2 separate regions of the Homo sapiens genome follow, and region 1 is linked to region 2. The links come from fine-mapping of genetic effects on gene expression. A gene starts in region 2. The other region holds a variant in brackets. All regions are shown on one strand. Distances are from middle to middle.

What was found. PIP is the estimated chance that this variant, and not a neighbour inherited with it, causes the effect.
Region 1: its variant is fine-mapped to the expression of MOK in nasal epithelium (TOPMed, PIP 0.94).

Annotation. Positions count from the first base shown.
Region 1 is chr14:102,234,188-102,238,569 of GRCh38, forward strand. The region is part of intron 7 of MOK (MOK protein kinase); the gene reads right to left. Among named protein-coding and RNA genes, the nearest start is that of MOK, 69 kb to the right of the region's middle. The variant C/T (reference allele first, on the strand shown) is at 2,523.
Region 2 is chr14:102,302,786-102,307,167 of GRCh38, forward strand. It overlaps MOK (MOK protein kinase), which reads right to left and starts at 2,379. Exons shown (of 12, transcript NM_014226.3): 1 at 2,177-2,379. The coding sequence starts at 2,183. RefSeq lists enhancers at 2,260-2,782, 2,549-2,598.

The DNA.
Region 1 (4,382 bases), 69 kb before region 2:
GGAAGGGGGATAGACTCTGGCCAGGACTCGCTCACTATCAATCTCTCTCTCTCTCTCTTTTTCTCTCTCTCTCCCTCCCTCCCCTATCACCCCTCTCCTGGCCAATCTCCCCTTCCCCGAACCTGCCAAAGACCCAGACAATCTCCTAGACTCTCCCATTGCTGGTGACTTCATCCACCATCAAAGCCTCCGCCAGGGTGAGTAAAAAGAGACTGTTGCCATTCCCTGAACTCTTGACCGTCCATCTCCCATTTCCGAAAGACCCAGCGCTGGGCCAAGGGCTTCCTCCAGCCTCCAGGCCTCTGGTTCCTCCGTTTCAGGGACGCCTGACACGGTGGTTACCTCCTCTATTCCTGACAAGTTCCGCGGGAAAGGGGACGTCACCGGCAGTCTCTTCTTCCTCTACCCCCCTCCCTTCCATTCACTATGGGAGCCTCTCAGTCTATTCCTCCTAAAACTACCCCCCTTGGGTGCCTCCTACACAATCTGTATACTCTTGGCCTCCGTTCAGAAATCTGCCCTAAAAGGCTTATCTTTTACTGTAACACCACATGGCCTCAATACAAATCAGACCATGGCTCCCAATGGCCTGAAAATGGCACTTTCGATTCCGACATGCTCAGAGACTTAGACAACTTTTGCCACCGCAGTGGGAAGTGGTCTGAGATTCCTCATGTTCAGGCTTTCTTTACTCTCTGTAGTCGTCCCTCCCTCTGCCAGTCCTGCTGTACTTTTCAAATTCTCCTCGCCTGCTCCAAACCCGACTCACCTCCTGCTCCCCTCATCCCAATAGCCCCAGCGGACGACTTCTCCTTCTTTGATCCCACCGATTTCTCCCCTCCTCGACAACATCCTAATCCTCCACCGGAACAGCATGACCCCCCACCGTATGCCTCCGCTCCGGCTCTACCTCTCTCTCCCCTTCTCTCCAACCACCCCACCTCCGACTCTGAGTCCTCCCCATCTCCACCCCTTACTCGTTCTCGAGCCCAACACGCCCAGCAGCCTGCTCCCTTGCTTCTTCTCCGGGAAGTGGCATGGGCCGAAGGGATGGTCCGTGTCCACGTCCCATTTTCCCTCTCTAATGTTTCCCAAATTGAGAAACGTCCAGGTTCTTCTCCGATCCCGACACTTACATCAAATAATTTAAATATCTCACCCAGTCTTATGAACTTACTTGGCATGATCTCTATATTATTTTGTCTTCTACCCTCCTTCCGGAAGAAAAGGAAAGAGTGTGGCTTGCAGCCCAGGCCCATGCCGATGACCTCCATCGGCAAGATCCTACTAGGCCAGTAGGGGCCGCTGCAGTTCCCTGAGAAGAGCGTACCTGGGCGTATCAACCCACAGGCCCCTGCCAGACCTCCTGTAATCATATGATTACTTGCCTCACTGCAGGCCTTAACAAAACTGCCCATAAGGCTGTAAATTTCGAAAAACTCAAAGGAATCTCCCAAAAGGCCAATGAAAACCCTGCCCAATTCCTTTCTCGCCTTACAGAGACTCTCCAAAAATACACGCGTGTCGATCCCGCCTCCCGGGAAGGAACTATTGTTCTTTACATCCATTTTATTTCCCAATCTGCCCCCGACATCTGGCGCAAACTTAAAAAGGCTGAAGATGCCCCTCAGACCCCACAACGAGACCTCCTTAACTTGGCTTTCAAAGTCTTTAATAACAGGGATGAGCAAAATAAATTAGATAAAGCCCAAAGAGATCGTGCTAAATACCAGCTTCTAGCAGCGGCTGTCCATCAACCCAGCCGTATCACCCAAGGGCACAAAAGACCCGATAGCAGCAACCCTCCGGGCCTTGTTTTAAGTGTGGCAAAGAAGGCCACTGGGCATGGGTGTATCCTAACCCTTGAGTGCCAAAGAGTCCTTGTCCAGTGTGCCAGCAGACAGGCCACTGGAAGTCCGACTGTCCTCTCAACAGACAGACAAGCCTGCTCCTCAGAGCCACCACCCCTTTAACAAGACAAAAAGTGAAGAACCGCTTGCATTCCCGCAGCTCCTCAGCCTAGCCGCTGAGGACTGACCGGGCCCAGGGCCCCCGGCCCCATCTGCCATCACTGCATTGGAGCCCAGGGTAACTCTGCGAGTAGCAGGTAAGCCGATCTCTTTTTAAATTGATAGCGGGGCCACCTACTCAGCTTTGCCTGAATTTTCAGGACCCACTCATCCCTCTCAGGTCTCAGTTGTGGGGGCTGATGGACTCATCTTGCGTCCACGCGCCACCAGACCCCTTACTTGCTCTCTGTTTGATACTGTTTTCCCACACTCTTTCCTTATCATGCCTCGTTGCCCTACCCCCATCCTAGGCCAAATTCAAAGCCAAATTCAAATTCAAATTTTGGCCAAATTCAAAGCTTCTATCACCTTTTTCTCCCTCCCTCAACCGGAGTCCCTCCTACTCCTCTATGCGAGTCCAGCCCCTGACCCCTCTCCCCAGTACCCACTTCCCACCTCTTTTGTAAACCCAACAGGGTGGGACACCACCACCCCTTCCCTAGCTACTCACCA[C/T]GACCCCATCAAAATCCAGTTAAAAGACCTCTCTAAATTTCCCAGCATCCCCAAAAACCCTATCTCCCTAACCCACCAAAAAGGCTTACAGCCCATCACAAACAAGCTCTGTTCACGCCGTCTTCTTAGGCCAACACGTTCTTCATATAACACCACCATCCTCCTGGTTAAAAAATCAGACGGCTCATACCGACTCCTGCAAGACCTCCGAGCCATCAGTCAGGCTGTCTTTCCTATTCATCCCATAGTCCCTAACCCCTCTACACTTCTCTGTCTCATTCCCTCCAACACCACCTGCTACACTGCTATTGACCTAAAAGATGACTTTTTTTACTATTCCCCTGCACCCTGATTCCCAAAACCTCTTTGCTTTCACCTGGACCGACCTTGACACCCTCCAGTCACAACAACTAACCTGGACTGTCCTCCCTCAAGGCTTCAGAGATAACCCTCACTTCTTTGGACAAGCTTTAGCTCAAGATCTCACTTCCTTAAACCTTTTCCCTAGCCGTCTCCTTCAATACGTGGACAATCTTCTCCTTTGCAGCCCCTCTCTAGAAGACTCTCAAACTCACACAGTTACTCTCTTAAAACTTTCTCTCCATCAAAGGGTATAGAGTCTCCCCCTCCGAAGCTCAACTTTCCACCTCCATAGTAACTTACCTAGGAGTTCAACTTTCCCCTGGGACCCGGGCTATGACCCCTGCCCTAGCAGCACTAATAGATAATCTGCCCTCGCCCTCCTCCAAAAGCGAAGTTCTTTCCTTCCTAGAACTAGCAGGCTTTTTTAGAATATGGATTCCCAACTTTGCCCTCCTAGCTCACCCACTCTATGAAGCAGCCAAAGGCCCTCTCAGTGAGCCTCTAAATCCCTCACGTAACATACTCCCCAACTTCTGCAAACTTCAAACCGCTCTTGTCACTGCACCAGCTCTGTCCTTACCTGGTATCTCCCAACCTCTCACACTCTATACTGCCAAAAGATGAGGAATAGCCCTCGGTGTCTTAGGGCAACAGAAAGGAGACCCTCCTTCCTTTGCCCCTGTAGCCTACCTCTCTAAACAGTTAGACAACACAGTCAGAGGATGGCCAACCTGTCTTAGAATGCTAGCAGCAGCGGCCACTTTAGCTGTAAGCAGGAAACTAACATTGAGTCAAAATACCACCACCTACAGTCCTCATAATCTACAGGATCTCCTCTCCTCCCGAGCATGAGGCTCCCTCCTTTCCGGATTCAATTACTCCATGCCCTCTATCAAAAATCCTGAATTCGGTCTTGCCAAAAGTGCTCCCTTCAACCCAGCATCCTTACTCCCTGTATCTTCTTCCCTTCCTACTCATTCTTGCACTGACGTCCTAGATCACCTGCAGCCACACTTTCCTAACATTTCCTCCGAGCCTCTCACCAACCCCGATGACCAGCTATTTATAGATGGCCCCCCTTCTGGGCCCACTGGCTCCCCCAAAATTGCTGGGTATGCAGTTGTTTCCCTTGACCGAGTAATTGAAGCTAAGCCCCTACCTCCAGGAACCTCCTCTCAAAAAGCAGAATTCATAGCTCTCACCAGAGCCCTAACCCTTTCCAAAGGCAAACGAGTCAACACTTACACAGACTCCAAAGATGTATATCACATTCTTCATTCCCACGCCACCATCTGGCAAGAGAGGAGATTCCTTACTGCCAAAGTGACCCTATCACTAACCACCCCCTTATTTACCAACTCCTTCAAGCCGCACATCTCCCAACTGAGGCAGGAGTTATACACTGTTGGGGACATCACACAGGAACAGATAAAATCTCAAGAGGCAACAGAAAGACCAATGGGGCAGCAAAAGAAGCCTCCCTTTCTTCCGCTCCTG
Region 2 (4,382 bases):
ACACATTTATATATTTATATATAATATATATAGAGAGAGTAAATTACTGAAAGTGATGCCTCTAGGTAGTGGGGTATGAAGAGTCTAAGAGGAAGGCCAGGCACAGTGGCTCGCGTCTGTAATTCCAACACTTTGGGAGGCTGAGGCGGGTGGATCGCTTGACGTCAGGAGTTTGAGACCAGCCTGGCCAACATGTTGAAACCCCGTCTCTACCAAAAAATACAAGTTAGCTGGGCGTGGTGGTGCACACCTGTAATCTCAGCTACTTGGGAGGCTGAGGTAGGAGAATCACTTGAACCCGGGAGGCAGAGGTTGCAGTGAGCCAAGATTGCACCACTGCACTCCAGCCAGGGTGACACAGAGAGACCCTGTCCAAAAAAAAAAAGAGTCTAAGAGAAAAAGAAGGTAGATAAATAAACCAAATGATCAAATCTAACTTCAGCAAAACTGCAACGAACTGACATCAGGCACTCTGGAAGGGCCACACTGACAGAGACACAACGTTGCCTCTCACATATTCCTGGTAAAAACATTTAAGCTGAAGCTAATCATGAGGCGAAAATCAGACAAATCCAAATTGAGCGATATTCTGCAAAACACTGGGCTGGATTCTTTAAAAATGTCATTTGGCCTACAGAGGACAGCCAAATAAAAATGAAAATATCATTGTCATGAAAGACACAAAAGGCAGGGACACCATATTAAAAGAGACCAAAGAGATATGACAACAGAATACAATTGGTGATTCTTGATTGGATAGAAAAAATATAAACAACTATAACACATGTTATTGGGATAAATGGAAAAACTGAAATATGGACTGTGTATCAGAGTATTGTATCATTGTTAAATTTTCTAAATGTGTTATTTGTACTGTGATGATGTAGGAGAATGTCCTTGTTCTTGGCAGATAACTGCTGAAAGAAGTGGTGAATTATTAGTAGTCTACAACTAACTCTTGAAAGGTCCAGTGAAAATAAATACATAAATGGGAGAGAGAAAACACCAGAGCGAAAGCGAGCACACAAAAATAAGGCAAAATGGTGCAGCTAAGTGAAGGACGGGTTTATAAATATTCAATGTACTGCTCTTGCAACTTTCCTGTACATCTGAAAATTTTCAAAACAAACAGATGGGAAGAAAAAAATGAATATAGTACAAAATATGTGCAGTATCATAGTCTGCACTGTAAGTAAAAGTGTAAAGTCTTTTGTAGACCTTGGATTCTAACTACAGCTTTGTAGTGCATTAATGAAAAAGGTAAACATTAAACAATATCCAACAAAATAAAATAAAAATAAAAATGCCTTGTAAAGGGTGAATGAGATTAATTATTTTAAATGTTATGCAATGTACACCATTGACAATTAGGATACAATGCAAATTTAACATTATAACTACTCCTAACATAATATTTTCACAGCAAAGGTCTGAATTTTTACTGCACCTCTGGTTCACAACCATAAACAATTATATCTGTACAGTAATAATAATTTTAAAAACATCATTCTAGCTGGTTGCACTTGGATTGTCAATAATCCACAAATCCCACTAAAGAAAATTTTTTACCCGTTACATTTTCTAGAATGACTACCTCATTTCCCAACTTTGAAGTAACAGCTTTTAACTAAAAGGTTGCTTCAAAACTACTATTAAAAAGTGGTTCCTATAAAACACTACTGCTTGACCCAAAAAATAAAATAAAGCACACAGCCCAGCTTTCCTCTCAATTGGTCACTAAACCAGTATCATGAAAAGGCAGGGAGCCACGCTGTAAGCGCTCCCCCGTTTTCTGCCGAATGTTCAGGAAAAGAGTGTCAGGTTCAAGCCAGCATTTAAAATAAAATAAAATGAATCACAGTCAACTCCCTAAACTCCAATGTAAGAACCACGCACCTGCACCAAAATATGCCTGAGCGGGAACTCGAGTCGGCTCTCCGAGACCCCAAAGTTCCCAACCTAGCCCCAACCCCTCAAGCTTCCCCCAGGGGCACCGGCTTCTCACAGCCGAGGGGGATTCGGGGCCCACATGCGGAGCCTCCCGGGCCTGTCGAGCCACGGCAGAAGGCGACGACGCCCGGCCCCACAGGCCCCTCAAGCTCCTCAAGCTCCCCCAGTCCCTCCCTCCCCCGCCACTCGCTCTCCAGTCCCTGCCCCTTTCCCCGGCCCCACTCACTCTTCATCTTGGATGCGGAAGCCGGTGACAACCCCTTGCCGACACTGGACGGAAAAGAAAGAAGCAGGAAGGTTGTCCCCCTGCTTTCCACTTCCCTGAGGCGGGGTCCCGCACTAGGATCTCCGTGGTGGTCCCTCGAAGGAGAGCGTTAGAGATCCCGCCGCCATGTTGTGTCCCTGTCACCCTAGCAACCGTCAGGCCCTGAACGCCATGAGCTGTCGCCTGCGCATGCGCAAGATGCCCCGCCCATGTACGCGTGCGCAGTGCAGCCCGTCCCCTCAGCCCGGTTGCTAAGCAGCCTTTCCTCCGCTTCCATGTAAATACTGTGCAAATCCCCGCCTTTGACACAGGCGACCTTCGCTCGGCTCGCTCTCCCTGCTGGCCTGGGAACTTAGCGATTTGGAACCCACTACGTGGACGATAGCCTTGAGCTTTAATTGGGCTTGGGAGCTTCTACAGGAATTTTTTTTTTTTTTTGAGACAGAGTGTCGCTCTGTTACCCAGGTTGGGGTGCAATGGCGTGATCTCGGCTCACTGCAACCTCCGCCTCCCGGCTTCAAGCGATTCTCCTGCCTCAGCCTCCCAAGTAGCTGGGATTACAGGCACCCACCACTACACCCGGCTAATGTTTTTGTATTTTTAGTAGAGACGGGGTTTCACCATGTTAGGCTGGTCTCGAACTCCTGACCTCAGGTGATCCGCCTGCCTCGGCCTCCCGAAGTGCTGGGATTACAGGCGTGAGCCACCACGCCCGGCCCAGTTTTTCTTTTTAATTCAACAAGCATTTGTTTTTGCCCCAGGAACTGTCGCAGGTATTGGGGATTAAAGGACAGTGTAGACGAGGTGACTGAGTTCTTGAAACTAACATTCTAGTGTAAAGATGAATGAATGTACACCGGAATGAACTATGTGCAGACACGGTGCCTAAGCAACACAGTGGCCTAGTTCTCTGGACCCTGACAAAACAATAAAATAACAAGCATACTATGTATGGGTATAGTATTTTATGAAGCTCATTAGATTAGCCTCATAATTATTCCATGAGATCAAAACCCTGTTTTTTCCTCCATTTTTTTTCTTTTACTAAAATACATCGTTTATTTTTAAAACAGATAAGTAGCCTTGCCAAAACGAAGCCTCAGAAAATTGGTTTAAGACTGAATTGGCCAGGTGTGGTGGCTCACACCTGTAATCCCAGCACTTTGGAAGGCCGAGGCAAGAGGATCGCTTGAGGCCAGAAATTCAAGACCAGCCTGGGCAACATAGAGAAACCCCACTTCCCTCTTAAAAAAAAAAAAAAAAAAACTCCGGGCGTGGTGGCTCACGCCTGTAATCCCAGCACTTTGGGAGGCCAAGGCGGGCAGATCACGAGGTCAGGAAATCGAGACCATCCTGGCTAACACGGTGAAACCCCATCTCTACTAAAAATACAAAAAAAATTAGCCGGGCGTAGTGGCGGGCGCTATAGTTCCAGCTACTCCGGGGGCTGAGGCAGGAGAATGGCGTGAACCCTGGAGGCGGAGCTTGCAGTGAGCCGAGATTGCACCACCTGCACTGCAGCCTGGGCGACAGAGCAAGAGACTCAAAAAAAAAAAAAAAAAAAAAAAAAAGCCGGGCACGGTGGCACATGCCTGTAAACCCAGCTATTCAGGAGAATAAGGCGGAGGTATCTTGAGACCAGGAGTTCTAGGCTCAGTGAGCTATGATAGCACCACTGCACTCTAGCCTGGGTGACAAAGCAAGACCTTGTCTCGAAAGAAAGAGAAAGCGGCCGGTCGCGGTGGCTCACACCTGCAATCCCAGCACGTTGGGCGGCCGAGGCAGGCAGATCACTTGAGTCCAGGAGTTCGAGACCAGCCTGGCCAACATGGGGGAAACCCCGTCTCTACTAAAAAAATACAAAACGGCTGGGCACAGTGGCTGATGCCTGTAATCCCAGCACTTTGGGAGGCCAAGGCGGGTGGATCCCCAGGTCAGGAGTTCAAGACTAGCCTGGCCAAGATGGTGAAACCCCATCTCTACTGAAAATAGAAAAATGAGCCGGGTGTGGTGGCAGGCACCTGTAATCCCAGCTACTCGGGAGGCTGAGGCAGAGAATTGCTTGAACCCGGGAGGCGGAGGTTGCAGTGAGCCGAGATTGCGCCACTGCACTCCAGCCTGGGCGACAGAGTGAGACTCCGTCTAAAAAAGCAAATACATAAATAAA